7 separate regions of the Homo sapiens genome follow, and all the other regions are linked to region 2. Evidence: fine-mapped expression QTL. A gene starts in region 2. Each other region holds a variant in brackets. All regions are shown on one strand. Distances are between the middles of the regions.

Evidence for each region. PIP is the estimated chance that this variant, and not a neighbour inherited with it, causes the effect.
Region 1: its variant is fine-mapped to the expression of PYGB in unexposed skin (GTEx, PIP above 0.99).
Region 3: its variant is fine-mapped to the expression of PYGB in thyroid (GTEx, PIP above 0.99).
Region 4: its variant is fine-mapped to the expression of PYGB in whole blood (TOPMed, PIP above 0.99).
Region 5: its variant is fine-mapped to the expression of PYGB in whole blood (INTERVAL, PIP above 0.99).
Region 6: its variant is fine-mapped to the expression of PYGB in blood mononuclear cells (TOPMed, PIP above 0.99).
Region 7: its variant is fine-mapped to the expression of PYGB in whole blood (TOPMed, PIP above 0.99).

The regions. Positions count from the first base shown.
Region 1 is chr20:25,583,619-25,587,957 of GRCh38, reverse strand. NINL (ninein like) reads left to right here and starts at 2,427. Exons shown (of 24, transcript NM_025176.6): 1 at 2,427-2,503. RefSeq lists a silencer at 2,363-2,492. The variant T/C (reference allele first, on the strand shown) is at 2,109.
Region 2 is chr20:25,246,076-25,250,414 of GRCh38, reverse strand. PYGB (glycogen phosphorylase B) reads right to left here and starts at 2,330. Exons shown (of 20, transcript NM_002862.4): 1 at 1,994-2,330. The coding sequence starts at 2,236. RefSeq lists silencers at 1,687-2,066, 2,377-2,566, 2,577-2,766, 2,947-3,026, 3,045-3,298 and an enhancer at 2,217-2,296.
Region 3 is chr20:25,657,685-25,662,023 of GRCh38, reverse strand. The region is part of intron 2 of ZNF337-AS1 (ZNF337 antisense RNA 1); the gene reads right to left. Among named protein-coding and RNA genes, the nearest start is that of ZNF337-AS1, 36 kb to the right of the region's middle. The variant G/C (reference allele first, on the strand shown) is at 1,928.
Region 4 is chr20:25,329,539-25,333,877 of GRCh38, reverse strand. The region is part of intron 2 of ABHD12 (abhydrolase domain containing 12, lysophospholipase); the gene reads left to right. Among named protein-coding and RNA genes, the nearest start is that of ABHD12, 59 kb to the left of the region's middle. RefSeq lists an enhancer at 3,087-3,608. The variant G/A (reference allele first, on the strand shown) is at 2,275.
Region 5 is chr20:25,768,258-25,772,596 of GRCh38, reverse strand. All of the region lies in intron 3 of FAM182B (family with sequence similarity 182 member B), which reads left to right. Among named protein-coding and RNA genes, the nearest start is that of FAM182B, 26 kb to the left of the region's middle. The variant A/T (reference allele first, on the strand shown) is at 2,610.
Region 6 is chr20:25,285,799-25,290,137 of GRCh38, reverse strand. PYGB (glycogen phosphorylase B) reads right to left here. Exons shown (of 20, transcript NM_002862.4): 15 at 1,655-1,713. Among named protein-coding and RNA genes, the nearest start is that of PYGB, 40 kb to the right of the region's middle. The variant G/A (reference allele first, on the strand shown) is at 2,113.
Region 7 is chr20:25,316,687-25,321,025 of GRCh38, reverse strand. ABHD12 (abhydrolase domain containing 12, lysophospholipase) reads left to right here. Exons shown (of 13, transcript NM_001042472.3): 4 at 708-827; 5 at 3,948-3,978. Among named protein-coding and RNA genes, the nearest start is that of PYGB, 71 kb to the right of the region's middle. RefSeq lists a silencer at 1,567-1,646 and enhancers at 1,997-2,236, 2,267-2,326, 3,440-4,049. The variant G/A (reference allele first, on the strand shown) is at 2,125.

The DNA of each region.
Region 1 (4,339 bases), 340 kb before region 2:
ATGTTACATGACTGGGTGATCCACAGTCAAACAGCTAGTAAGTGGCATGATTCACATCTTCTGACTCCAAATTCATTCTCCAGCCAGTGAGTGGGAGCCCGTGCAGAGCATCAGGAGCACTGAAGAGAAGACATTCTTCACAATGGCAGCCCCCATGGCTCTGAGCACCCCTGGGAATCCAGGGTTATAAACTGGAGTCATCGGGGTCTTGGCTGCGCATCCCACAGGGACCACCTTTGCACGGTGTGTCCTGCCATTGTGCCCCACACTGGTTGGGACAGGTCATGGGCATAGCAAAAGGTATCTGGGCACATTCAGCAGGTCAGAGAAACCTCCCAGCCTAGAACACACTATGAGCGTCTCTGAACCACTCCCTGTGTTTGCCTTTTGCTCTGCATGGGGTTTAGCACTTGCAGGCACTTGGAAATTTCACTCGCCCTTGGAAACTCCGTTCCCCCATAGCCTGTCTTTCATCCTGCTTCCTTCTCACCCCATTTTGCCTCTGATCCTCACATCCTCTAAAGTGGAGTTCCTACAAAGTATATGCACCTTTCTCATGCTACAGTGTACTGTAGCTCATTTTGTAATTCTGATATAACTCTCTGACATTTTTGTATATTTATGTTTTTATTTTTATTTTTTGGAGACAGAGTCTTGCTCTGTCGCCCAAGCTGGAGTCTAGTGGCAAGATCTCAGCTCACTGCAACCTCCGACTCCTGGGTTCATGCAATTCTTGTGCCTCAGCCTCACGAGTAGCTGGGACTACAGGCGCGCGTTAACCACAACTGGCTAATTTTTTTGTGTTTCAGTAGACACTGGGTTTCACCATGTTGGCCACGCTGGTCTCGAACTCCTGTCCTCAGGCAATCTGCCCACAGTGGCCTCCCAAACTACTGGGATTACAGGCATGAGTCACCGTGCCTGGCTGTATTTACTTTTTTTTTTCTTTTTTTGAAATGGAGTCTCACTCTGTCGCCCAAGCTGGAGTGCAGTGGCTTGATAACCACAACCTCCGCCTCCCAGATTCAAGCGATTCTCCTGTCTCAGCCTCCTGAGTAGCTGGGATTACAGGCATATGCCATCACGCCCGGCTAATTTTGTATTTTTAGTAGAGACGGGGTTTCTCCATGTTGGTCAGGCTGGTCTTGAACTCCCGACCTCAGGTGATCCGCCTGCCTCAGCCCCCCAAAGTGCTGGGATGACAGGCATGAGCCACTATGCCCGGCCGGGTATTTACGTTTTTAAATTGTTTTCTGTGTAAACTCTATAAGGGCCAGGGATTTTTTGCACCGCTGTTGGCAGCCCCTAGGACAATGCCTGGCCCTAGTAGGTGTTCGATAAATATATACAGGTTGAATATCCCTTAACCGAGATGCTTGGCACCAGAAGCATTTAGGATTTCAGATTTTGGAATATTTGCATTATACCAATTGAACACCCCTAATCTGAAAATCCAAAATTAGAAATGCTCCAATGAGGCCAGGTGCGGTGGCTCATGCCAGTAATCCCAGCACTATGGGAGGCCAAGGTGGGAGGATCACTTGAGGCCAGAAATTCCAGACCAGCCTGGGCAACATGGTGAAGCCTCCTCTCTTAAAAAAATACAGGCCGGGCGCGGTGGCTCACGCCTGTAATCCCAGCACTTTGGGAGGCCGAGGCGGTGGATCCATCCCTTGAGCCTAGGAGTTCGAGACCAGCCTGGGCAACACAGTGAGACTCTGTGCTAAAAATACAAAAATTAGCGGACATGGTGGCAGATGCCTGCAGTCCCAGCTACTGGGGGTTGGGACGCTGAGGCGGGAGGATCGCCATAGCCGGGAAAGTCGAGGCTGTAGTGAGCCATGACCGCGCCACTGCATCCCAGGCTGGGCAGCAGAAGTGACAGCCTTTCTCAAAAGAAAAGAAAGTTAAAAGAAGAAAAAAGAAGTGCTCCAATGTGCATTTCCTTTGAGCATCAGGTCAGCGCTCAAAAACTTTCAGATTTTGAAGCATTTCGGATTTCAGATGTTTGGATTAGGGATGCTCAACCCGTATTGATTTAATATGCGGTGGAAACGTGACGACCTAGGTTTTAAGTCGCGGTTTCCTCAGTGGTGGGTTTGGGGTAT[T/C]ACCCCTGCCTGGCCGGCCTCCGGGCTTGTTTCCAGAAGATGCTACCCCGAGAGCTGCGAACCGCCAAGCTCCGCAGCGCGCAGGGCTCCGACAGGGACCAGCGAGGTCAGCTCCAAGGGTCACCCCAGGCTCCAAACTGGCCAGAGCCGCCCTGAGATTTGCGGAGGCCGCCTTGCCCCCACCCCGCCCCGCAATCCCGGACCCGACCCGCCCCCTCTCCCGTTCGCTCGCCCCGCCCCCTGTTCGCCCACTGCGCCGGGACACCGAGGGGGCGGTGCCTCGAGGCCGGGAGGAGTGTTGCGTCGCGGCCTCCAGACACAAAGAGCGGCCGGCGGTACGGGGGTGGTGCCGCGCTCCTGGCCCCGCGCGGGCGGACGGCGGAGGCGCCTCCCAGGTGAGCCGGCCCGGGCGTCCGGCGGGACATTCAGGCGGCTGGTGGGGTCGAGAGTCCGGGGCCGCCCCTGCGTCGCGACCCGCGCCTTAGTCACCAGACCCGGCTCCGGGAGCGCGGCCTCGGGTGCTCCTCGCGGTGCGGGGCGCAGACTCGGCGCATCTGCTGTGGTGCCTGCTCTTCCGGTCGCCCTCGAGGGCGGGGCGGGGGTCACGCCCTAAAATACAGCGCCCGCTGGGCCGAACGCTTGAAAACCCGGTTTCCCGACGGCGGCGGCGCGGGCGCCGTGCGAACGAGGGCCCGGGTCCAGCACAGCCCCAAGGCTCGGCCTGAGGCGGGCGGCCTTGGCCGGGGCCCCCCGTGGTAATGAGCTACGCGGTGCCCGCCGCCTGCCCAGCGCGGGCCGTTTCTCCTGACGCCGCCGGCGTCTGGTCGAGGCCCAGGATTCCCTCCTGCCAGTGTGGCTGCGGCCCCCCACGGAGCGGGACCCGCGTTCGTGGCGCTTGGGACGGTTGATTGAAAGGGTGTAGAAGTCTGTTGCGAATTTTATCTGTTGTACTCGTTTTGCAGATTCGCCCCTTTCCTCCCGCCTGTGCGCGCAGTCACACACACCATGTGGGAGTCTCTGATCGCGTTGGGTTCATAATCATCGATCGTGCCTGGGTACTGATGCCCCATTGTTAGGAGCTCTGTGTGGGGCTGTATGTTTGCACAGGACTCACGTGAGGAAGGGTGGCCACGTTTCTTTCTGCTCTGTGAGACTTAGGCCAAGCCCTGGAACTAGGGAGGAGGTTCAGGAAGAGACCCATGAAGCTGGCGGGGCCTTGGAGAAGGGCAAGTGATTTTCAAGGTCAGTAGTAAGAGGGGTCATGAGTAATGGTAAGTTTCTTAGCGGCCTTTGCTGTGACTTCTAGGTTTTTCACACTGGACTTAAAATACTTTTAAAAGCAGAGTTTTTGTTCTTCTTGTTGTTGTTCTTGTTGTTGTTGCTGTTTTTGAAACGAAGTTTCACTCTTGTTGCCCAGGCTGGAGTGCAATGGCGCCATCTCGGCTCACTGCAACCTCTGCCTCCCGGATTCAAGCGATTCTCCTGCCTCAGCCTCCCGAGTAGCTGGGATTACACGCCCAGCTAATTTTTTGTGTTTTTAGTGGAGATGGGGGTTTCACCATGTTGGCCAGGCTGGTCTCGAACTTCTGACCTTCAGGTGATCCAGCTGCCTCGGCCTCCCAAAGTTCTGGGATTACAGGCGTGAGCCACTGCACCCGGCCAAGTTTTTGTTTTGTTTTGTTTTTGTTTTTTAATTTTATTTTACTTTAAGTTCTGGGATACATGTGCAGAACGTTCTGGTTTGTTACATGGGTATACATGTGCCATGATGGTTTGCTGCACCTATCAACCCGTCATCTAGATTTTAAGCCCCACATACATTAGGTATTTGTCCTAATGCTCTCCCTCCTCTTGCCCCCCACCCGCCCCGACAGGTCCCGATGTGTGAGGTGTGTGATGTTCCCCTCCCTGTGTCCATGTGTTCTCATTGTCAACTCCCACTTATGAGTGAGAACATGCGGTGTTTGGTTTTCTGTTCTTGTGTTAGTTTGCTGAGAATGATGGCTTCCCACTTTATGCATGTCCCTGCAAAGGACATGAACTCATTCTTTTTTATGGCTACGTAGTATTCCATGGTGTATCTGTACCACATTTTCTTTATTCAGTCTATCCGTGATGGGCATTTGGGTTGGTTCCAAGTCTTTGCTATTGTAAATAGTGCTGCAATAAACATACACGTTTATGTGTCTTTATAGTAGAATGATTTATAGTCCTTTGGGTATATACCCAGT
Region 2 (4,339 bases):
CCACCACACGTAGACAATCAAAAGAGATCTCACGGAGGATCAAAAAACCTGTTTTGTTGCAGGGACTATCTTGTTCATGAAGGTCATTTCCGTAATCCCTGAGCCCATCGCTGGCCTCTCCAGGATGTGATTATACATAAATACTCCAATGGGCACCCTAAGGTGTAGAGCTGAGTCCTGGTCCAGCTCCAAGGAAATGCCCTTGAATGTGAAGGCAGAGCTATGTCCTTGCCATCCGCCACTTAGACAATAAAAATGATGTTGCGGGTCGGGTGCGTTGGCTCACGCCTGTAACTCCTGCACTTTGGGAGGCCGAGGCGGGCGGATCACGAGGTCAGGAGTTTGAGACCAGCCTGGCCAACATGGTGAAACCCCGTCTCTACTAAAGATACAAAAAATTAGCCGGGCGTGGTGGTAGGCGCCTGTAATCCCAGCTACTTGGGAGGCTAAGGCAGGAGAATTGCTTGAACCCGGGAGGCGGAGGTTGCACTGAGCCGAGATCGCGCCACTGCACTCTAGCTTCACGCTACAGGGCAAGACTCAGAATTAAAAAAAAAAAAAAAATGGTGCTGTGCATCAGAACTCTCCCAACAGCAGGGAATTCTGGGGGAGCCACTGCTTCTTGGCTGCTTTTCCTGGCAAAGTCATCCCAAGCCCTTGTTATAACCTGTTTTGGCCATTCGTTGCCACTTCTATGTTTTGCATACCAAATATGAAGAGCCCCAGTTGGTATTCTAACAAATCTGTCCCTTTTACCATCTCCATTTTAGAAAAAAGAATGTCCCAGAATAAGTTTGGAAAAGCAGTCAATCTCTTAGCAATTACCGTATTAAACATATCTTAATGCCCTACAAAAATATTCTAAAATACCATCCATAAAGCAAGTGCTCACTGCCTAGATGTACACTGCAAGTAAAATCTTTGCCAAGTGGCTTCAGGTCTGGAAGTGTGTCTTTTCCTCACCAGTTCTCCCTCTACGTTAGTGTAGTAGAAAGACAATTCTCCATGGTCAAGAGTTTAAAAGCAAACGACAACAACAAAAAACTGGCAACAGGGGGCTGTGCAAGACTACCATGTACCTATCAAACTGAAAACTACCATCCTATCCATTGACCTGCAAAGCTGTTTATCAGTGAAAAAGTTACAAATGTTTACGAATGAAACAGAAAATCTAAAAAACTGTATGTGCATTATACTTTTTAAAAATGTGTATGTATATTTAGGAATACCAAAAACACAGCAAGAACACAGGCCCATAGTAAACATGGTTAAGAGTAACGGGGACAATCAGTGACTTTGTTTCACTACTCAAACAAATTTTTGCAAGATATAAAAAGTAACAATTAGTAAGATGATCTCTGTCAACTTCAACCCAAGCAAATTTCTCCAAGGGAGGTGTGGGAACCTCTAAGACAGAGCCTTCTTCGAGGGCTCCATCTCCATCTCTGAGCTTCGTACCCCTCCCTGCGTGAAGCAGGCATCTTCAGTGATTTTCTTCTAAGCAGCGTACACAAAAAAAAGTCTCACAATTCCCTGCAGATTACCGAGCTCACCCCATTCCAACCCACAAGGCTGCCCAGGCCTGGTTCCAGTCCCATTTTCTCCCACAGGCTGCTGCAGGAAAACAAAGAGTGGCTGGAGGCAGGGGCGGGGAGCACCGGCTCTGCAGCCAGCGCGGAAGCGCACGGCCAGAAAGAGACCGGGAACGTCCGCCAGGCTCCCGGGCTCAGCATCATCTGCGGGGGACGGCGGACCCCGCCAGGCGCGGGCTCCCAGTGGGGCGGACCCGTGGCCGCGGCCCTGCGCAGGGGACGCCCGGGCCCCGCCGACTGCGGCTTCCAGGCGACTCCCCAGTCGGCTGTGCCTGGCCGCCGGCCGGCTAGGGGCGCAGGTAACGCCCGACGGGCCGCCCCGCAGAGACCCCCGCTGGCGCGGCTCCGGGACCGGCGCCCTCTCAGCGGGCACGGGCGCACAGGGCGGGGCAGCGCCTCACCTTGGGGTCGCGCTCGTAGTAGTGCTGCTGCGTGCGGATCCAGCGGCCCACGAGGTGGTCGCGCACCGTGTGCGCCAGCGCGAAGAAGTAGTCGCGGGGCGTGGCCACATTGCGGTCCTTGACCAGCGTGAAGTGCAAGTGCCGGTTGAAGCTCTTCCGCACCTCGGCCACGTCGCCTAGCCCCGCCAGGCCGCGCACGCTGATCTGCTTCCGCTTCTCGCTGTCCGTCAGCGGCTTCGCCATCGCGCCGGCGGAGGCGGAGGAAAAGAGATGGAGGAGGAAAGCGGCGGCACACGCGAACGCCGGGATGGTGCAGCTGCTCTGGCGCCGCTGCTCTGGCGCCCGGCACTGCGGCTCTGCGGGCGGGATGGACCGCGCCTGCGCGCCGCGCCGGGGCGGGGCCTCGGGGGGCGGGGCGGGGCCTCGGGAGGGCGGGGCGGGCGTCCAGGCTCATAGCTGAGATCTCTGGTGTAGTCCGAGGCGGCAGCGACCTGTCCACGCCACCTGAGCGTGGTGTTTGCCCCCTCGTTGGGCAAGCCCGGCAGAAAGTGGGAGCGACTGGAGGGGGCAAGGGACCCGGGGCCTCGGAGCGTGCCGTCGTGGCCGCTCCTGCCAGCCCGGGGACGGTGCGGGAAGGGGGCCCTGCCCTCCGGCCCTCGGGTTCCTGGGACCGGCCCTCCCGCCCTGCACCGGGTCACCAGGTGCCCCGCGGGAGCGCGCTGGGCTCGGGCTGTGGCCGAGACCTGGTACACGTTCGGGGAAACTGATTACAGCTTGAAAGGCATCCACCAACGCCTGCTGGGCCCGGTCTTCTCTGTCCGGGGCAGGGCGGCTCTGAAAATACCAGCTATTTGCTTGCCACTCCAGGCCGATGACAGACGTGGAGAAAACCAGCTGCCAGCGAGCTGGAGACGCCCGTTCCCGAGGGCGCGAGGCAGCCACAGCCAAATGCCACCACGACCCCGCCTCGGAGGGACCGCAGCCCCCTAGCCCTCGGAGAAACCCTGTTCCCGAAACCACCTGGCAGACGCTGTCCGCTTTGAGATTACAGCAGGGAGAAGGAAACATGCCCGTCTGGCCGGGGAGCTCAGCCACTAACCGAGACTTAGCCTCTGTCATCCCAATCCAGGCTGCAGCTCCAGATAGGGGGCGTCTGCACACAGCTTCCCACACTTGGCCCCGCGGAACACAGTCCTGCTGGCCTCAGCCTGTGGGAACCCTGCTTCATGTAAAGGTCACCTAAACTCTGCCTTCCCTCAACCCCTTCAAACTCTGCCTTTCCCTTCGTTCTTGGGAGGCGCTCCCTCATTGCAGTGGGTCAGTACACCCGATTTTGTGGACCACAGGTTTGCTCCTGGTGGTCTTGGGCTGAAGGGGCTGCAAAGGTTACTGAATTTCGTGGAGGTAAAAATTGCCCGCAGGAAATGTCATGAAAGTCCAGGTGCAGTAGGTTTCCTGGTGTGATGCTTCAAAGTTATCTTCTTACCTGGAGCCCCTTCCAGCTGCAGACTTCAGAGGTCGGAGGTTAATCAATCTGGAATGACCCCACAGCCCACCCAGCTCCAGCTCGGGATTCACTCCTGCACTATGTCCTAGGGATTCTGGAGCCAACAAGATCGAACTTCGGGCACAGATGGCAGGGCTGTGGGGTCGAGCTTGGCTGCAAGCTCCGAACACTGATGCAATCTCTCTGAGGGTGATCTGGCAATTCAGAAGTCATAAAAATGATAGTGCCCTATGACCACTTCTACCACTCTGGGGAATTGAGTTCAAGGAAAGCTTAAGAAGACAAAAAGCAAGTTATGCAAATATGTTATCTGCTGTGGTGTGGTAAAGTTTAATCCCCCAGCTGTGGTGCACACCTGGCAAAGAATGGAGGCGCTGACACTTATTGATCATTACTTGCAGTGTACACGTATTAACTCCTGATCCCTGCAAATAGCCTGCTATTACCCCCGCTTGACAATGGAGAAGGTGAGCCACAGAGAAGTTAACTCTTCCCTAAGCCCACACAGCTAATAAGGGAAACAGCCAAGGTTCACCCCAGCCAAGCCCTGCTCCACTGCACAAGCCCAGAAAAATGTATCTGTGCTCAAAGTTAATATCATAAACCATTGTGCTGCTAAAAGGAATGACTGTTTTAATAGCTAGCTAGGAAGGTGTGATTGATGACACAATACTGATAAATGAAACACAAAAATAAGGATGTAATGCAGAAATGACAGTAATGATTTGAATATTACTTTCATTTAGTCAATTTAAATTTAAATTAAATAACCACATGTGGCTAGGGACTACTGTGTTAGAAACACAGGTGTATATCCAAACCTAAACACTGGTTATTTC
Region 3 (4,339 bases), 410 kb before region 2:
CCAGCTGAGGCAGGAGGATTGCTTGAGCCTAGGAATTCAAGACCAGCCTGGGCAACATAGCAAAACCTCATCTCTACAAAAAAACATATATAAAAATTAGCTGGGCGTGGTGGTGCATGCCTGTAGTCCCAGCTACTTGGGAGGCTGAAGTGAGAGGATCGCTTGAGCCCAAGAGGTTGAGGTTGCAGTCAGCCAAGATGGTGCCACTGTCCTCCAGCCTAAGCAACAGAGTGAGACCCTGTTTCAAAAAAAAAAATTATATTAAAACACACAACAAAATTTACCAACTTGGTCATTTTTAAGCATATATTTTAGTATCATTAAATATATTCACAATGTTGTGGACCAGGTCCCCAGAACTTCTGCATCACGCAAAATGGAATCTCTATAGTCATTAAACAACTCCCCATTTTTCCCCTTCCCTCCACACCCTAGTAAATACCATTCTACTTTGTGTTTCTATGAATTTTTCTACTTTAGATTACTCATGTAAGTGAAATCACACAGTCATTTTGTGACTGGATTCTTTCACTTAGCACTCAAGATTCATCCATGTTGGAGCATGAGACAGGATTACCTTCCTTTTTAAGTCTGTGTAATATTCCATTGTGTATATATTATGGGCCTTCCGTATCCATGGGTTCTGTGTCTCTGGATTTAACCAAACTCAGATTTAAAATATTCAAAAATATGTTAAATTTCACAAAGTTCCAAAAAGCAAAAATTGAATTTTCCCTGAGCCAAATACTAAGTCAAATCCACACCAATAAAGTTATATGTAGGCACTGTACTAGGTATTATAAGTAACCTAGGAATCTAGGTATTAAAGTAATCTAGGATTTAAAGCAGTGGTCCCAAGCCCCAGGCCGTGGATGGGTACCAGTTCATGGCCTGTTAGGAACCGGGCCACAGAGCAGGAGGTGAACAAAGGAGCCAGCAAGTATTACCGCCTGAGCCCCACCTCCAGTCACATCAGCGGTGGCATTAGATTCTCATAGGAACATGAACCCTATTCTGAACTGCACATGCAAAGGATCTAGGCTGCACACTCCTTATGAGAATCAAACTAATTCCTGATGATCTAAGGTGGAACAGTTTCATCCGAAAACCATCCCCCTGACCCTGTCCATGGAAAAATTGAGCCTGGGAGGTCAAGGCTGCAGTGAGCCGAGATTGAACCACCGCACTCCAGCTTGGGTAACAGAGTGAGACCCTGTGTCAAAAAAAAAAAAGGAATGAAAAGAGAAAGAAAATTACAAGAAAGTAATTATAACATCTGTTACAACGTGGATGAACCTTGAAGACATGCTTAGGAAAAACAGACAAACACAAAAGGTCACATATTGTATGATTCTATTTAAAACATTCAGAGTAAGTAAATCCATATGGATGAAAAGAGCACTGGCAGTTGTCCGGGGCTAGGAGGAGGGAGAAATAAGAAGGAGGTGCTTAACAGGTAGGTACAGAGCTATATTTTGACATGGAATTGTTTGGAACTAGATGGAAGCAATGGTTGAGCAACACTGTGAATCTACCAACTGCCACTGAGTCGTTCTCTTTACAATGGTTAGTTTTATATTATATAAAACTCACTTCAATAAAGAAATCAATCAATGTATAAAACACTGAATGTCACCTCAAATCCCATGATTAAGGCAGAGACTCATTGGCCCCATGATTAAATGGCTTCCTCTCCATTCACTCCCAAGCCTGCATACATTTGTCAGTGTGAATCTTAGCAGGGTGTGACCCACACCCTTTGCAGCAACCAGCTCAGAAAGGCAAACCAGGAACTGCTGTAGCAACAAACCCACACCAGTCAGGACATGGCAGTGATGCAGCTTCTCTAATTTGTGCCCTGGCTTCCAACTCAGAACCAAGCAGAGAAAGCCAAATGTACTCCCATAACCAGTCATATGAGATGCCT[G/C]AATGCTTATTAGACACTTCCAGTGTCCCATGTCAGTAGCCTCCAGTCAACAGCACATCTGATGCCTTCCCTTTTGTTCACTACAAAGCTTTCCCACTTTGTCAAAAGTGGCTGACTCTCTTGCTTTAGCAAGCACTTTCTAAGTGGGCCCTGATTGTTCCCGTTTGAGTTGTCTTTATTTCCACACAGCTGTCAAGCCAGTACCAGGGATTTTCACATTTCGGTGACCTTCAGTGATAATCACATCTACCATCGCACACCACAGTACACAGACACTCTCTCCTAAACAAAACGCTTTCTTCAACAATGGGTGAACATCCTATGTACAAATGATGAAGTAAAAACACAGTGCCATTCAGATCTTTACTGATATTTAAACAAACCATAGAGGAAAATTCCAAATAAACAATACAGACACAAAAAAATAAGTGCTGGTTGAAACTACTGAGAAGTGACCTGCAGTTTAGTGAATCAAAGGTTTTCCTTATTCTTTAAACACTTTTTAATAACAGGCATGTCCTTCCTAGAGAAGCACATACCTTTCTCCTAATTTTATTCTTGCCAAAGATTATATCGTATTTCTTTACAATTACATACTCTCCTCCACACCTGTGGTTATGTCTTACTTTTGGTTTTCTTTTTCTTTTTCTTTTTTTTTTAAGAGATGGGGCCTTGCTCTGTTACCCAGGCTATTCCAAGTGATTCTCCTGCCTCAGCCTCCCAAGTAGCTGGGACTACAAGCAAGCACCACCACACTTGGCTAATTTTTGTACTAGAGACAGTGTCTCACTCTCTTGCCCAGGCTGGTCTTGAACTCCTGGTCCCACGTATCTTCCCACTTCAGGCTCCCATAATGCTGGGATTTCAGGTATGAACCACCATGCCTGGCCATTTGGTCCTTTTCCAGCTTCTTACATTGGTATTAAACTCATTTATTTGCTTCTTCTTGTTTTTATCAAAATATCTTTCAGTTTCCGAAATGTATGCTGAATGTCATTTCCTTTCTTTATGCTGCAATTTTTACTTTTACTTCTTCTGTAAGCTAAGACTCCAATGTATGTTTTCAATGTCCAAATGGATACATTTTTTGTTACCTTTCATTTTTAAATTTCTGCATTGTGGTCAATGTCTCTCGCATTACTTCTGCCTTTTCAAATTTATAGTTTATTTTTGAAACCAAGTACCTGATAAGGACTTCTGAATTTTCATGTTTTAGAGTAAACTGTAGTATCTAAAAGGAAAGTGTAGGTGTGTATATACACATACACAGAAATCAACTGTTCATATTTCATCTCATTTTTTCTATTGTTTCATACTCTTTAATATTGTCTCATTTTTATTTTAAAACATCTACTAAATTATATATGTAAAGAAAACATACAAAATACACTTTTTTTTACTATTTATATTACACTTATAAATAGATGTGTTTAAAAACACATGACAAGAAGTTCCAAGATGGCTTCAATCCCCACCACAGAAAACCAAAACCAAATATGCACCTCCAAACTCCTCACCAGCAACAACCCGGAGCTCAAGTACAAGGGTGAGACCATTCCCAGGGCCACAGAGAAGAGGAAAAACTTCAAGCAAAGGACAGGAGAATTGGACTTCCATATCCATGATGCCCCTCCCCCTATTATGCCTGGCACCAGTCTCCCTGCAGCTCATGGTTTCTACAATGGAAAAAGTGAAATTGAGGTTGTCAGCCACTTCTCCAACTTCTTGGATTCCCAGGCAGGAGACCTCTCCATGCTTTAACCCATGGGTAGCATCGTGACTGCCTGAAGGGAGAATTAACCCTAAGGACAGGCAGAAACAAGCAGGGTAGGCAGGACTACCACCCCCAGCCTCAGAAACCGCTTTGTAACTCAGCCAAAGGAGATGCTAAATCAGAGTGTCTGTTCACCAGCACCATGCTGTAGGAGGGAGTTCCCCAGGTCCCCTGGGCATGAACTCCTAGACAATCTTCCCTCACTGCTGGGATAATATCTTTAGGACCTCCTCCATTTAGGACAGGCAGCGCTCTGACCACTTAGAAGAGAAGAGGCAAACCTGGGCTTAACGTGCCACCTACAGCCACAGAGAAGGCAGCGACTTAGTAGCAAAGATTCACCAAGCAAATATGTTCAATAAAAAGCAAAATAAGCCAGAGAAAACTAGAATAAATAACTAATCTTCCATTGCAAAAACATATATATATACCCACAAGAAACAACAGTAAACAGACGAATATGACCTCCCCAAAAAGACAAACCAAAAATCCAGAGAGTGACCCTATCTAGATGGCAACTTGTGAGCTCTCTGACCAGGAATTCAAAATAGCAGTTTTGGCTGGGCAAGTGGTGACTCGTGCCTGTAATTCCAGCGCTTTGGGAGGCCGAGGCAGGCAGATCACTTGAGGTCAGGAGT
Region 4 (4,339 bases), 83 kb before region 2:
TGCTTCCAGTTTTTGCCCATTCAGTATGATATTGGCTGTGGGTTTGTCATAGATAGCTCTTATTATTTTGAGATGTGTCCCATCAATACCGAATTTATTGAGAGTTTTTAGCATGAAGGGTTGTTGAATTTTGTCAGAGGCCTTTTCTGCATCTATTGAGATAATCATGTGGTTTTTGTCTTTGGTTCTGTTTATATGCTGGATTACATTTATTGATTTGCGTATATTGAACCAACCTTGCATCCCAGGGATGAAACCCACTTGATCATGGTGGATATGCTTTTTGATGTGCTGCTGGATTAGGTTTGCCAGTATTTTATTGAGGATTTTTGCATCAATGTTCATCAAGGATATTGGTCTAAAATTCTCTTTTTTGGTTGTGTCTCTGCCCGGCTTTGGTATCAGGATGATGCTGGCCTCATAAAATGAGTTAGGGAGGATTCCCTCTTTTTCTGTTGATTGGAATAGTTTCAGAAGGAATGGTACCAGTTCCTCCTTGTACCTCTGGTAGAATTCAGCTGTGAATCCATCTGGTCCTGGACTCTGTTAGGTTGGTAAGCTATTGATTATTGCCACAATTTCAGCTCCTGTTATTGGTCTATTCAGAGATTGAATTTCTTCCTGGTTTAGTCTTCGGAGGGTGTATGTGTCGAGGAATATATCCATTTCTTCTAGATTTTCTAGTTTATTTTCATAGAGGTGTTTGTAATGTTCTCTGATGGTAGTTTGTATTTCTGTGGGATCAGTGGTGATATCCCCTTTATCGTTTTTTATTGCGTCTATTTGATTCTTCTCTCTTTTCTTCTTTATTAGTCTTGCTAGTGGTCTATCAATTTTGTTGATCCTTTCGAAAAACCAGCTCCTGGATTCATTAATTTTTTGAAGGGTTGTTTGTGTCTCTATTTCCTGCAGTTCTGCTCTGATTTTAGTTATTTCTTGCCTTCTGCTAGCTTTTGAATGTGTTTGCTCTTGCTTTTCTAGTTCTTTTAATTGTGATGTTAGGGTGTCAATTTTGGATCTTTCCTGCTTTCTCTTGTGGGTATTTAGTGCTATAAATTTCCCTCTACACACTGCTTTGAATGTGTCCCAGAGATTCTGGTATGTTGTGTCTTTGTTCTCGTTGGTTTCAAAGAACATCTTTATTTCTGCCTTCATTTTGTTATGTACCCAGTAGTCATTCAGGAGCAGGTTGTTCAGTTTCCATGTAGTTGAGCTGTTTTGAGTGAGTTTCTTAATCCTGAGTTCTAGTTTGATTGCACTGTGGTCTGAGAGATAGTTTATTATAATTTCTGTTCTTTTACATTTGCTGAGGAGAGCTTTACTTCCAAGGATGTGGTCAATTTTGGAATAGGTGTGGTGTGGTGCTGAAAAAAATGTATATTCTGTTGATTTGGGGTGGAGAGTTCTGTAGATGTCTATTAGGTCTTCTTGGTGCAGAGCTGAGTTCAATTCCTGGGTATCCTTGTTGACTTTCTGTCTCGTTGATCTGTCTAATGTTGACAGTGGGTTGTTAAAGTCTCCCATTATTAATGTGTGGGAGTCTAAGTCTCTTTGTAGGTCACTCAGGACTTGCTTTATGAATCTGGGTGCTCCTGTATTGGGTGCATATATATTTAGGATAGTTAGCTCTTCTTGTTGAATTGATCCCTTTACCATTAAGTAATGGCCTTCTTTGTCTCTTTTGATCTTTGTTGGTTTAAAGTCTGTTTTATCAGAGACTAGGATTGCAACCCCTGCCTTTTTTTGTTTTCCATTTGCTTGGTAGATCTTCCTCCATCCTTTTATTTTGAACCTATGTGTGTCTCTGCACGTGAGATGGGTTTCCTGAATACAGCACACTGATGGGTCTTGACTCTTTATCCAATTTGCCAGTCTGTGTCTTTTAATTGGAGCATTTAGTCCATTTACATTCAAAGTTAATATTGTTATATGTGAATTTGATCCTGTCATTATGATGTTAGCTGGTTATTTTGCTCATTAGTTGATGCAGTTTCTTCCTAGTCTCGATGGTCTTTACATTTTGGCATGATTTTGCAGTGGCTGGTACCGGTTTTTCCTTTCCATGTTTAGCGCATCCTTCAGGAGGTCTTTTAGGGCAGGCCTGGTGGTGACACAATCTCTCAGCATTTGCTTGTCTGTAAAGTATTTTATTTTTCCTTCACTTATGAAGCTTAGTTTGGCTGGATGTGAAATTCTGGGTTGAAAATTCTTTTCTTTAAGAATGTTGAATATTGGCCCCCACTCTCTTCTGGCTTGTAGAGTTTCTGCCGAGAG[G/A]TCTGCTTTTAGTCTGATGGGCTTCCCTTTGAGGGTAACCTGACCTTTCTCTCTTGCTGCCCTTAACATTTTTTCCTTCATTTCAACTTTCGTGAATCTGACAATTATGTGTCTTGGTGTTGCTCTTCTCGAGGAGTATCTTTGTGGCGTTCTCTGTATTTCCTGAATCTGAATGTTGGCCTGCCTTGCTAGATTGGGGAAGTTCTCCTGGGTAATATCCTGCAGAGTGTTTTCCAACTTGGTTCCATTCTCCCCGTCACTTTCAGGTACACCAATCAGACGTAGATTTGGTCTTTTCACATAGTCCCATATTTCTTGGAGGCTTTACTCGTTTCTTTTTATTCTTTTTTCTCTAAACTTCCCTTCTTGCTTCATTTCATCTTCCATCACTGATACCCTTTCTTCCAGTTGATCGCATTGGCTCCTGAGGTTTCTGCATTCTTCACGTAGTTCTCGAGCCTTGGTTTTCAGCTCCATCAGCTCCTTTAAGCACTTCTCTGTATTGGTTATTCTAGTTATACATTCTTCTAAATTTTTTTCCAAGTTTTCAACTTCTTTGCCTTTGGTTTGAATGTCCTCCCGTAGCTTGGAGTAATTTGATCGTCTGAAGCCTTCTTCTCTCAGCTAGTCAAAGTCATTCTCCGTCCAGCTTTGTTCCGTTGCTGGTGAGGAACTGCGTTCCTTTGGAGGAGGAGAGGCGCTCTGCTTTATAGAGTTTCCAGTTTTTCTGCTCTTTTTTTTCCCCATCTTTGTGGTTTTATCTACTTTTGGTCTTTGATGATGGTGATGTACAGATGGGTTTTTGGTGTGGATGTCCTTTCTGTTTGTTAGTTTTCCTTCTAACAGACAGGACCCTCAGCTGCAGGTCTGTTGGAGTACCCAGCCGTGTGAGGTGTCAGTCTGCCCTTGCTGGGGGTTGCCTCCCAGTTAGGCTGCTCGGGGGTCAGGGGTCAGGGACCCGCTTGAGGAGGCATTCTGCCCGTTCTCAGATCTCCAGGTGCGTGCTGGGAGAACCACCGCTCTCTTCAGAGCTGTCAGACAGGGACATTTAAGTCTGCAGAGGTTACTGCTGTCTTTTTCTTTGTCTGTGCCCTGCCCCCAGAGGTGGAGCCTACAGAGGCAGGCAGACCTCCTTGAGCTGTGGTGGGCTCCACCCAGTTTGAGCTTCCTGGCTGCTTTGTTTACCTAAGCAAGCCTGGGCAATGGCGGGCGCCCCTCCCCAAGCCTCGCTGCTGCCTTGCAGTTTGATCTCAGACTGCTGTGCTAGCAATCAGCGAGACTCCGTGGGCGTAGGACCCTCCGAGCCATGTGCGGGATATAATCTCCTGTTGTGCCGTTTTTTAAGCCAGTCGGAAAAGCACAGTATTCGGGTGGGAGTGACCCGATTTTCCAGGTGCCGTCTGTCACCACTTTCTTTGACTAGGAAAGGGAACTCCCTGACCCCTTGCGCTTCCCGAGTGAGGCAATGCCTTGCCCTGCTTTGGCTTGCGCACGGTGCGCGTACCCACTGACCTGCGCCCACTGTCTGGCACTCCCTAGTGAGATGAACCTGGTACCTCAGATGGAAATGCAGAAATCACCCGTCTTCTGTGTCGCTCACGCTGGGAGCTGTAGACTGGAGCTGTTCCTATTTGGCCATCTTGGCTCCTCCCTCAACACAATTCCATGCATTTGTTTTTAAAGCAAAGGGCCAGCTTCCTCTTTTTCCTTCCCCTGAGCAGTCCCTGTTGACTCCTGTTACCTTTCTTTTCTTATCCCCTTTTTTCATACGGAAGGTCCTGTAAGCCTGCATCAGGTAATTGGAATTTGATAAAACCCAAATAACCAACCCAGGCTTTCCCTTGACACCACACCTCTTATGGCTGCCGGTATCAAGGCTGCTCTGTTACTCACAGTGATTGGAATGAGACTTAGCCCCCTGTTCAGACCCTCAGCACTCAAAGACCATCACAGCTCAGTAAGTTTCAGCCTTTCCCGCAACAAATATTTTGCAGGTGAGCTAAAAGAAGTATGACAGAGCAGGTCGTTTTCCATTCACTCACATTCTCACTTCTTCACCCTCCAC
Region 5 (4,339 bases), 520 kb before region 2:
AGCTGGTGATCACCAGAGAGGACTAGTCCTCCTGGTGCCTGATGTCCAACTTGGGACTTTGTGTCCACCTGGAGACCGATGTCCATTTGGGACCAGATGTCCAACTGGAGCAAGATGTCCACCTGTAGCCTAGAACTTCACCTAAGGCCTGATGTTCCCCAGGGCCTACAGAGCCTATGTATCTACCTAGGGACTTGTGTCCAGGTGGGGCCTGAATTCCACCTGGGGCCTGGAATTAACCTGGGACCTGATGTCCACCTGAGACGTGGGTGTTCCTCTGGAGTCTGATATCTATCTGGGGCCCGGGTGTCCTCCTGTGGTCTGATGTCCACTTGTAGGCTGGTGTCCACCTGGGGCCTGGGTGTCCACCTAGGAACCTGATGTATACCTGAAGTCCAGTGTCTACGTGGGTACTGATGTCTACCAGGAAAGTGATATAAACCTGGGGCCTGATAGCCACCTGGGCCCTGAGTGTCCACATATGTTCTGATTTCTCTTTTGGCCTGAGTGTAGGGCCTGAGTGCCACCTGCTTCCTGATGTTCACCAGGAACCTAGGTATTCACTTGGGGCTTGCTGTTCACCTGGGGCCTAATGTCCATGTGAGGCCTGGTATTCAGCTAGAGCCTGGGCATCCCCCTGTGGCCTGATGTTCAGTTGCTGACTAGGAATTCCACTAAAGCTTGATGTCCACCTGGGGCATAGGTAACCACTTGTGGCCTAGTGTTGCCCTGAAGCCTAGGTGTCAACCCAGGGCATAATGTCCCCTTGGGGCCTGCTGTCCACCTGCAGACTGGTGTCTACATAGGGCCTGGTATCCACCTGGGGTCTGGTGTCTGCCTGGGGCCTAGTGTCCACCTGAAGACTGAGTATAGACCTCAGATCTGATGTATGCCTGGGGCCTATTTATCCACCTGGGGACTAGCATTCATCTGGGGCCTCATGTCCACTTAAGCCCTGGGTGTCAACCTGGTGCCTAATGGCCACCAGGGATCTATGTACTCACTTGGGGCCTGGTGCTCCCACAGGGCCTAGGTATAAACCTGGAGAATGATGTGCAGGTGGAGGTGGATGTCTTCCTGGGTGCTGGTGTTCACCTGGGGACAAGGGTCTCCCTGGGGACCAGTGTTTATCGGGAGCCTCATATGCACCTTGAACCTGCTGTCTACCTAGGGCCCGATGTCCATGTTAAGGCTGGGTGTCCACCTGGGACCTGGTTGTCCACTTGGGGCCTAATGTCCACCTAAGACCTAGTGTTCACCTAGGGCCTGGGTGTCCACCTGGAGCCTGATGTTCAGCTGGAGATGCATCCATCCGAAACCTAGGTATCCACCCAGGTTCTGGTGTCGACCTGGGGTCTTATGTCCACCTGGGGACTAGATATCTACCTGAGGCTTGATGTCCACCTGGAGCCCGATATCCACCTCAGAGCTGGGTGTCCACCCAAGTTCTGGTATCCACCCGGAGCCTGGTGTTCATCTGGGGCCCAGTGCCCACCTGGAACCTGGGTATCACCATGGGGCCTGGGTGTCCACTTGGAACGTGATGTGCACCTGGGACCTGAGTTTCCACCTAGGGCCTGATGACCACCGGAGACCCAGGTGTCCACCTGGGGTCTGATGTCTACCTGAAGCCTAGGTAACCACCTGTGCCTTGGTGTTACCTGTGCCTTGATTTCCACCTGAGCCTGATGTACACCTGGGGCCTGGGTGTCCATCTGAGGCCTGATGTACACCTCAAGTCCAGTGTCCACTTGTGGCCTGATGTCAACTTGGAAGCTGATATCCACCTGGGGACTGATGTTCTCCTGGGGTCTGATATCCAACTGGGATCAGATGTTCACCTAAGGCCTGGAGTTAATCTGGGGCCTGATGGTCACCAGGGACCCAGGTGTCCACCTAGGGCCTAGTGACCAACTAGGGCCTGATGTCCACCTGGAGTCTAGTATCCGCCTTGGCCCTGATGCTACTTGAGGCCTGGGTGTCTTCCTAGAACCTGAGTCCCCAACTGGGCCCTGATGTCCACCTGAGGCCTGGTGTCCTTGTAGGGCCTGATATCTACCTAAGGCCTGGGTATCCTCCTGCAGCCTGATGCTCACCTGTAGGCTGGTGTCCATATGGGGCCTGGGTGTTCACCTGTGAGCCTGATGTACACCTGGAGTCCGGTGTCCCCTTGGTTACTAATACGTACCAGGAAAATGGTATATACCTGGGGCCTGATATACACCTGGAGCCTGTGTGTCCACTTGAGCCCTGATGTCCACCTGGGGCCTGGTGTTTACCTGGGGCCTCTATCCACCCACTACCGAAAGTCAAGTTAGGAAAAGGGCCCAGGATAGGTGAGGAGCACAGAACAGGGACCTCATTCATAAGAAATTCTGCTGTAGAATGTGTGCTCTAAGCTCTTAAAACAGCTCTGCCTCAGGAAAGACTGTCCAGGGCATAGGAAGCCCACACACAGGGTGGGATGACAAGTTTGCATCTGGCATGGCTGGGAGCCCTGGGGGCCTCTGCCCTTTTGGCCGCGTTGTCTCCTGGCTTTTAGGGTGGTGGGATTCTCGGCTCTGATTGCAGCAGGTGGATTCACTTAGCTCTCCTCCCCTTTTAGCATT[A/T]CTGTCTTCTGTAATAAACCTCTCACTTTGATCTGCCAGGCTGTCAAATGCTTTGATTGCCCTCTCTGTTTTGTTCCAATGGTTCATCAATCCAAATATCCACAACACAAGGACAGATTTTAGTCTCTTCATACAGTGGGATATTTCACAGCTATTAAAACAAATCAAATAAATGCTTGTGTATTGATATGCAAAGTTGTCCTGCATCAATAACTTTTAAACACATTTTATGATCCCACATCTATATCTATACATAATGTTTGCCACTGCTTAAACAAAACAAAATCTAAGCTTTAGACTCCAAATGGAATTACAGGGGAATCTTGATGTCTGTGTTCTGCAGTTCTGTCATGTTTGAAATTGTCAAATAAACATGGTGCCTTTCCAGTAGCCACTCAGAATTCCTCCTCTCTGTCCACAAAGCATTGTCACCCTCCCTGTCCCATTTGCCCCAGCCCTGTGGAGCTCGCTGAGCTGGCACCATCATCTCTTGTAATAGACGAAGACATTGAGGACCAGAGAGGGGAAGCACCTTGTTGACATCCCACAGCTCTGAGTCAAAGTGGACTTGGTCTCCCTTACTAGATGTTTCCTAAAGTCCAGGGAGCCCTGGAGGCCCAGGAATGTAAGGGCTGGAGCCTGGGGCTTTCTGTCCTGAGGTAGGGGAGCTCACGGCTACAGTTCACGGCTTGAGTGCATTTCCTCTCAAGTACAATAACGGCTGCTTTGTAAGATGGAAAATATAAATGGCTGCCTGCAAATTTGTCAGGTAATGTGTTTGTCTCCCCTATGGGACTGTAAACTTGGACCTGTCTGAATCACCCTAGTGTCCCCAGCACCAGGCCAGAGCCTGACATATAAAATGACTGACTTCATTAAATACCAACACCTTCTAGGTGCCAGGTACTGCTCTAGATGCTGGAATCTGCAGTGAATAAGATACCCAGAATCCCTGCCCCTCACTGTAGTAGAGCAGAACAGATGATGAATAAGTAAGCATGCAGGGTGTGAGATGGGTGGGAGACCGCATTGTGGAACCAGGCAGTGTGCAAAGCGGACACTCAGGAAAGAACCTGAGGGTTGAGCTGTGGATATAATGTGGATATGATGTGGATATGATGGAGGAAATTCGCCCCTAACATGAGTGGAGACACTCCAGCTACAATAACAAGCGAAGGTGGAGAAGGAAGCACAGAGGCAAGCAGCTGGGGAGATGTGGGGGTGGGATCCAGGGAAGGTTCTCTCTTTATTGCATCTATTTTCAAATTGAAATAGGAAGCAAGGCAACAGGTGTAAGGAAGGCTGAGGAAGGTTTTAGAGGTTTAAGGAGGAAGGAGGAGGCAAGATACTGTTGCTTGGGGACAGGGCAGCACTTCTAGAGCTGGGTGCCTGGGCTCCAGGGCAAGTCACTTCATCTCTTCCTGTGCCAGCATCTCCTCAGCTGTGAAATAGTGATTATTATAGAACAGATTCATAGAGTTTGATGATAATTAAATCAGTTGGTATTCATAACATGCTTAGATTATATATTTTTTTATTAAGATAACAAAGAAGTCTGGCAGACTTATGGACTCAGGAAATGAGTGAGTCTGTAGAACATCATCCAGTGCCCACTGGAGGTTTGGGCTTGATGATTAAATGAGAGCAAAAGGCATGTGTGTTTCTCTCTGGCTGTGCACAGCCACCTGAGTGCAGGAGCAGAGGGAGTGGGTGCCTGGTTTTCAGCAGAG
Region 6 (4,339 bases), 40 kb before region 2:
ACACTGGAGGGACACATTCGGAAAGAGCCAGGCTACGGCGGACAGACAACCCGATGTCTGTAACAGACAGACTGTGGGGAAAACCTACAGAGAACTGAGACACCACGGCCAGTCCAAGGTGAGGACTCACTGGGCCCTCACTCAGACCAACTTTTAGAAATGTCTGTTACTTTACAAAGACAACTGGGCAGGGGACCCATGAAGTACCCGAGTGAACATTTCAGGACACGGAGGACTCCTGTCCAATGCTTTAGGTGTGACGGATGGTGGTACTGTGTGGTGATGTTTCAGTCTACTCCCATTGTGGTTCTGGTGGAAAACATCATTTTATGAAAAGGAATGCTGACGTATGTAAGAGTGAAGAGCTAGAGTGTCTGCAGTTTACTGTGAAATGCTTCAGCTAGTCTGGGTGACAGGTTTATGGTTTTGCTACAATTCTTCCTGCTTTTCTCCAGGTTCAAATGTTTCCTTCTTTTTTTTTTCTTTTTTTTGCTGAGACAGGGTCTGGCTCTGCTGCCCACACTGGAGTGCAGTAGTGCAATCACAGCTCACTATAGCCTCAATCACCCAGGACAATCGATCCTCCTACTCAGCCTCCCAAGTAACTGGGACTACAGACATGAACCACCACGCCCAGCTAATTTTTGCACTTTTTTGTAGAGATGGGGTTTCACCACACTGCTCAGGCTGGTCTCGAACTCCTGGGCTCATGCGATCCACCCGCCTTGGCTCCCAAAGTGCTGGGATTACAGACGTGAGACACCGTGCCCAGCCTAAAATTTTCATAATAACATTTAAAACTTTTTCGAACTCCGTATCTCTATGGACTTTACATACTGAAATACTGACAAATAAAATGACACAATTCCAAAATTTGCTTCAAAAACAGCAGGTGACAGGAGTGGACAGAGACCAAATGGGGTGTGCCAGGAGGTGGCGGAGCCCAGAGGAGTGCCCACCCCTCTGACCAGCTTCCCACTCGCTGAAGGCAGCAAGAGGGCAGCCTTCAGGCTGCACACAGGCACCAGCACCCCCAGGCCCCGGCCTTGCCGTGGAGGGCTGGGGTGCCTCACACAGTCCAGACTCACTTAGGGCCACTGCTCCAGCAGGACCCTCCTAAGGACGCTGCACCCCACAGCAGCCTCACAGTTCTGGATAAAGACCAAGCTACTAGGGAAACATGGCAGGAGGTGGGGACACTGGCCGCAGAGGGCTGATGAGTGTGACGATGTGACCTGGGACTCGATGACAGCACATCTAGGACTCTGAAAGTATGTGTCATAGTAAATAAAGTGAACTGAAACCAGGCAATGCTCAGGGCATGTGCAGGTGATGAAGCAGCCACAACGCCCTGTGCCCACTGGGCACAAAGAGAAAGGACACTGCCCTCTCTGAGGTGGGCACCAGCAAGCCCACTGGGGACTGGCCCTCTAGGCTGGGGACCCCTCCAGTGAGCTGGGCAGGCAGGAGGCTTCCATCCCATTCTGACTCTCTACAGGGTCCCCACCCCCACAGGCATACCAGAGGGGCCGGTGACCGCTGGGCATCCGGTTCCCGAGTATGGATGTGGTGGCACCATGAGAAGCGTGCAGGCTGCCCACCCACTATCCCCAGACCAAACACCACAGAGAGGACTGCAGAGGAAGTCACTCACCTTGCCCCCAATCATAACAGTCCTGGGCACAAAAGCCTTGGCCGGGTCTCTCTTGATTCCTGCAGGACACACGGAAGAGACTCACACAAGGCACCGCGAGCCGGACGAGCCCCTGCTGGGGCCCAGCAGCATCAGAGGCCGACCCTGAGGCAGGACAGGCACGCTCCGCCATGTACTTCAAGCCCCAGAGACACGGGTGACAGTGGCACAGGGCCACTGGCCACCCACCTGCCCACCCACCAGGAACCTGCCACTTACAAGGGAGTGAGGCCACCCTGAGGTCTGCACTTAGGTTCCCCGCTGGTGAGGAAGGCCAGCCAGGACCATGGACGAACCCAGCAGCTGACTCGAGCAAAGATGCTATTCCCCGGGGCTCAGAGGAAAAGCTGCACCTCAGTTTCCAGAAAAGCCCAACACAGGAGCCTCCTTGGGTCTGGTCACCAGTGTTCAAGGCCCCT[G/A]TACATGAAGGGCACACTTGTGGGTTTTGTTTGGTTTTGTTTCTTGAGACAGCAGCTCACTCTGTCGCCCAGGCTGGAGTGCGGTGGTGTAAGCGTAGCTCACTGCAGCCTCTACCTTCCAGGTTCAAGCAATCCTCCCACCTCAGCCTCCTGAGTAGCTGGGATCCTAGGCACGTGCCACTGCGCCCAGCTAATTTTTTAATTTTTTGTAGAGATGAGGGTTTCTCTACATTGCCCAGGCTGGTTTCAAACTCCCACGCTCAAGCAACCCTTCCGCCTCAGCCTCCCAAAGTGCAGGGATTATAGGCGTGAGCTACCGCGCCTCGCACTCTACCACTCTTGGGTTTTTTTTGTTGTTGTTTGTTTTTGTTTTTAAGAGTTAAGGTTTAGCTCTGCCACCCAGGCTGGAGTACTGTGGTGTAATCCGGGTTCACAGCAGCCACAGACTCCTGGACTCAAGTGATCTTCCCCTCCTTAGCCTCCCAAGTAGATGCGACTACAGGCACCGACAGGTTACCACATGCAGCTAATTTTTTCACTTTTAGTACAGATGGGGTTTCACTTTTTTGCCCAGACCAGTCTCAAACTCCTGGCATCAAACAGTCATCAGGCCTCAGCCTCCCAAATCACTGGGATTACAGGGGTGAGCCACCACACTGGCCTTAAATTGTGTTTTAAACACATTGTTTGGATGACACAAAGAAAAAGTGGCAACCTCAGCCTTGTGGCTGTGGTGCCATCAGCCTGCAGGGGCGCTGGGTGAGACCTTGTGTCTCCCCTCTGCCTCACTGGGACAGCGGGTGAGGGCCCCCAAAGTTCTTCACAGAAGTGGATGGAGGGTCAAGCCATGACGGCCGGCTCACTGCCAGCCCAGCAAACAGGCTGTCCTCGCCAGGTCATTTGTTTGCAGATTTCACGGGAGGTTCCTACAAAAAGGGGATGAGCGGCCACCCTGGACAGGCGTTCACCAGCGAGCCGGGCCTGGGTGAGGCAGCAGGGAGTCGGGCTGATGTGTACCACCCAGCCCCAGGCTCCAGGAGGAATGCAGCTGCCCCTTAAATGCTGGATCTTGTCACTTCTGGAAATCAGCAGAGAACAGGAAAAACGAAACACACAAGTGATGATTTCACCACAACTAGGAAAGAAGGAAACCATGCAAACCCCAGGTCACAGTGGGCAGGGGACAGGGTCATGGGAGTCCTAACCTCTGGGGAGGGGCACTCTGGGCAGAGAGCTCCAGTCCTGGGGGCCACCAAGGAGCCCCCGGGGAACAGCAGGTTTGGGCAAGCGCCTCTCCCACAAGGGCACCCTCACAAGGCAGGTCCTGGCCTCCAGAGGAGCCTCCCGCCCAGGTGAGACCCGGAGAGACAGCAGAGGCGCAGCCACAGGCTGGGGAAGCATGGCCTTGGCCCAGCAGAGGAGCTGCCTTGGAGGGCTGAGAAGCCTATTCCGAATAGCCCCAGGTGATCCAGCTCACACCAACGTAGCAATGGAAGTCAGCACCCAGCCCCGCCACAGGCCACAGGAGGGGAGTGAACCCCTTCGCAAATCACATACCCTTGGTGACCACCAACTTGGAAAGACATGGAGCCAAATGCCAAGTCCTCAGGGAGGGGGGCAGAGAGCAGAGGAGAGGAGCAGAGGGCACGGGAGGAGAGTGCAGCCGGCAGAGACTCCAGAGAGCAGTGCCACTCCACAGGACAAGGACAAACCAAGTCCTGAGAGAAGTAGGCACCAAGGAAGAAGGCCAGAGAAAGCCACCTCACGCCACACTGCAGCCCAGAAGCAGAAAACCAAACAGAACCAAACACACGTTTCAAACAGACAACTTCCCTGAAGTCCAGCAACACGTTCAACAAGCACCCGGAGTATTGGCGAAAATGCCCTGTAACGGCCAACACCAAGACACGGCAATGACAGTGAGTCACTGATGAGATCGAGAACTCAGACATCGCCAGACTTCTGCACACACACCCACCCTCCAGACAGTGCCCGGTAGGGCCCTAAAAAGCACTGGGGGAAGGAAGTGGAGTTAAGACTGGCATCTTCAGCCAAACCGACCTTCATGGTGAAGGGTCCAGGCCGTTTTGAACAAGCAAGAACTCGGGAAGGTTGTTCCCATGAGCCAGTCATGAACTAGACACAAAGTGGCCAGCAGGGCTGGGCAGCACTTTGCAGAAGGACCGTGAGAAGCAGTGAACATACTCACCACCAGACTCAAACTGAT
Region 7 (4,339 bases), 71 kb before region 2:
GAATGAATTTGAATAAGCTTTACAGAAAAGTGATTAATTTGGACCCTCCCCAGTGATTAACAGTATTCGATGTGGCCTGAGTTAAAATTAACCTCAGTATCTCTCTGAAGGAGGGTTTGGCTAGATAGACCAGCAGCTTCAGAGTGCCCAGCCAGGTGTGGACCATGAGCAGACTGGGAAGGTGGTGCATACTTGACATTAGAAATGGCGTCAGCGATGGCCCGGTTTCTAGTCTGGCTCACAAACATTGGTGTTGCTGAATTAGCAAATGTGACAGCATGTACTGTTTAAAATCCATTGTGAGTTAAACTGTGGACAATTTAAGCATGGGGTTAACTGGGATGTGGGGCACGTATGAGGAAAATGCTATTACTCAAGATGGACTAAGTGCTGCTTCTCTGCCAGGCCCCAGTGGTAACTGGCACATTGCAAGCCTTTGTGGCCCAGAGGAGGCTGGCCTGCCAGTCAGGGAACGCTCCTGCTGAAGCTGTCAGTGCCATCCACACAGCCTGCAGTTCCGTGGTTATTGATTCTAGTGATGGGGATAGTTTTCTACCACCCACCCCCATCTGTTCCCCTGTAGTTAGATGGGGTCTGCAGCTCCCTGCTGTCTGGACTTGAGCTGATTAAGTAACACCACGTGCAGTCGCCAGGATGAGGACAGAAGGGACATCTGATCCTGCGCTCCCCTCTGCTTCTGTCTGCAGGCACACCGTCCCTGCAGTCTGGTGGAAGAACGCCCAAGGCAAAGACCAGATGTGGTATGAGGATGCCTTGGCTTCCAGCCACCCTATCATTCTGTACCTGCATGGGAACGCAGGTACCAGGTGAGGGAGAGGAGCCCATCATCTTTGCTGTGGAGCATGGCTCCTTTTTGGGGTGGGAATGTCCTGGCCCGGTCTGCCGGAAACCAGCAGGAGCAACCTGCGGTCCCACAAAATTGGGTGTACTGACCCACTGCAATGAGGGAGAGCCTCCCAAGAACGAAGGGAAAGGCAGAGTTCTGAAGGGGTTGAGGGAAGGCGGAGTTTAGGTGACGTTTACATGAAGCAGGGTTCCCACAGGCTGAGGCCAGCACGGCTGTGTTCCGTGGGGACCAAGTGTGGGAAGCTGTGTGCAGACCGTCCCCTATCTGGAGCTGCAGCCTGGATTGGGATGAAGGAGGCTGAGTCTCAGTCAGGAGCTGAGCTCCCCAGCCAGAGGGGCATGTTTTTTTCTCCTTGTTGTAATCTCAAAGGTCACAGCATCTGCTGGTATGTGATTTGGGGAGCAGGGTTTCTTGGAGAGTGAGGGCTTTGGGGTCCCTCCGAGGAGGGGTCATAGTGGCACTTGGCTGTGGGTGCCTCGCGCTCTTGGGAATGGGCGGCTTCAGCTCACTGGCAGCTTGTTTTCTCTATATCTGTCATGCTGCCTGAAGTGGCAGGCAGATCTTTGTTACCTGTAAGATAGCTCCAGGTGGCAGACAGGTGAAGCCGGAGCCAGGGCAGCCCTGGAGGAGGTGGCACACTTCCTGGAAAAAAGTGGCAGGTGCTGAGAAGGGGCAGGAGGGAGAGGCTGAAAGCACCAGGTGCTGGGGTCTTTGCAGGCCACCCTACAGTGTGAGCTCTCTGCTCACCCTAACGGGCTGTTGCTGAAGTTCATGCACTCTTTGGTTAATCAGCCCTGCCCAGTTTTATCTCAGATGCTTTTCCTGAGTGGGTCTAATGGCTTGTCCTTTCCACTGGCTGCCCTGGAGTTGGCCTCCCTGCCTTAAAAGGGTGCTCCTTCCACACCATGTGATTGCTGTTCAGAAGAGCCTCTGTGGGAGAACCCAGGGTGGGTGCGGAGGGGATACATTTTCTGAACAAAGCATTGTTTGAAAACCACCAAGGTCTTCGTGTGTGAGAGAGGCAGCCAGGAGCCAGCACAGAGGCAGACCCAGCACGGAGACAGGGCTGCTGCGGGGCCAGGGCCGAGGTCCCGTGTGGCACCAGGGTATGTCAGGGCTGGGGGCAAACATTTTATAGGCAGAGCCAGCAAGGAGAGCTGTGCTGGGCCCTTCTGGAAGGGAAAGCAGGCCTAGGTGGGGTCTGCATGGTGGAACCCTGCAGAGAGCATTGCTGAAAGAGCCTGGCGGCATGGCCC[G/A]TGAAGCGGTTTCTGTGTCAGGGATGGCGTGTCTAGCTACAGAATCATGCATGTGCTGCACAGTTTCCTTTCTTCTTTGTCTGGGACAAGCTGCAGAGGGTTTCTCTTCTGCTTTTCAAAGAGCAAGTGGCTACAAACAGCTCTTGCAGCATCTTTTTATAAATGACAGAACTGTGGTTGGCTGTGAATAAGGTTCAGTTCTGCAGTGCCCATCACATGGTTAAAAAAAAAAAAAAAAGATCCTGCCTATAACTTTAGGTTAGAAAGGGATGCCGTGACTTTCAGTGTTTGCTGCCCCCTCCCAATCCTGCAGAGACTGCCTGGCTGCAGTCCTCGCCACCCCCACGTTGCCTGCTTTCTTTGTCCTGTGCATCCCACTGGGGTTTCGCTGGTCTGCGGGATCCACCACCCGGGTCCCCCTGAGGTCCAGACCCCCTGGATTCCCAGCAACTGTTCCTTTTTTGCTTAATGTAGGAAATTTTAGAAACTTAGAGCCACTGTGAACTCTTACAATGATAACTGAAAATATTTTGCAGTGTTTCCTCCTTGCCTTGAAACTCATTCCTTTATTTTTTATTTTAATTTTTGAGACAGAGTCTCACTCTGTTGCCCAGGCTGGAGTGCAGTGGCACAATCCTGACTCACTGCAACCTCAGCCTCCTGAGTTCAAGTGACTCTCCTGCCTCGGTCTCCCGAGTAGCTGGGATTACAGTCACCCACCACCATGGCCAGCTAATTTTTGTATTTTTAGTAGAGACGGGTTTCACCATTTGACCAGGCTGGTCTCAAACTCCTGAGCTCAAGTGATCTGCTCACCTCGGCCTCCCAAAGTGCTGGGATTACAGGTGTGAACCACCGCACCTGACCCTTTATATTTTTGTTTCTGTACTTTATTGGCTTCCTCCTCCATCTCATCCTGGTGTCCAACCAGCAACACTCCCGCCCCCATACCTGAAATGTTGAGACCGCTCCTGAGGAAGGAGGAGCACGGCTAGGGAGTGTGGAGAGTGTGGACCCGCCCTCCTCCCAGGTGGCCCATGTCCCTGCTGTGGGGTCGGTCCAGGTTAACAGCTGGCCAACAACTGGAAAGAAAGAGGGAAGGGAGCCTAGACAGGCCTCAGACAAGGAAGTACAAATGGGAGGGTGTGTGCCGAGCCCACTTAGTCTCAGTAGCGACATGCACGGTGAAGCTGTAGTTGGCTGTGAGGGGCGGGAGGCAGCCGTTCCGGCACTTCAGGGCCTCCCTGGGGAGATTCTAGGAGCATATCCCATGTGCAGAGCACACACATGTGAAGGGCTGTAAGGCAGGGTGGCCACAGCAGCAAACAGAAGTTAGTGCCAGGTGGGAAACAGTCAAGATGACCATGAGAGGCCAGGGTGGTGTGGCTAAGCAGAGTTCTGAAGGTCGGCTGAGACGTGCGGAGCAAGAAGTGAGGGCAGAAGTCGCCCATACGGGTCCTGTTGGAGCACAGCCTCTGTCTACACAGGGTGTCCTTGGCACAGGGAAGCTGGGAGGGTCTGGGGTGTGGTGGATGAGGCCTTGCTGTGTTTCCTTTAGTGTCTTTCTAGTTTGGGGCTGTAGGTGTGCATTACCTACTGAAAAATAAAAGCAGTCATTAAGAAATCTCCCCCAAAGTGCTAAGACCATCTCCCCCTTGGCACAGCACTGCCAGAGGCGAGTGTGGGGCTACTTAGGGGGACCCAAGGAAGAGGTTCTGCCCTCTTTCATTGGCCTCCCCCTGGTTTGGGGTATGGAGGACAAGTTGACCTGGGGCCCAACTCTGAGAAGATGTGCTCACACCATGTCCTGTTTTCTTCTCCAGAGGAGGCGACCACCGCGTGGAGCTTTACAAGGTGAGTGCAGGCAGCACCCACACCTGTTCCCTGGGCTGTTCTTTCCAGGGCAGGAAGTGAAGGGAGTCACCAGACTCACAGCTTGAGAGTTAACTATTGCTGGGCTGTTTGTGTGTGTGAGACAGGGTCCTCCTCCTCTGTTGCCCAGGCTGGAGTGCAGTGGTACAGTCACAGCGCACTGCAGCGTCGACCTCCTGGGCTCAAACTATCCTCCTGCTTCAGCCTCCTGAGACTGCAGGTGCATGCCGCCACCACGCCCAGCTAATTTTTGTTTGTTTTTTTGTAGAAATGAGGTCTCCCTATGTTGCTCAGGCTGGTCTCGAACTCCTGGGCCTCCCACCTTGGCCTCCCAAAGTGTTGG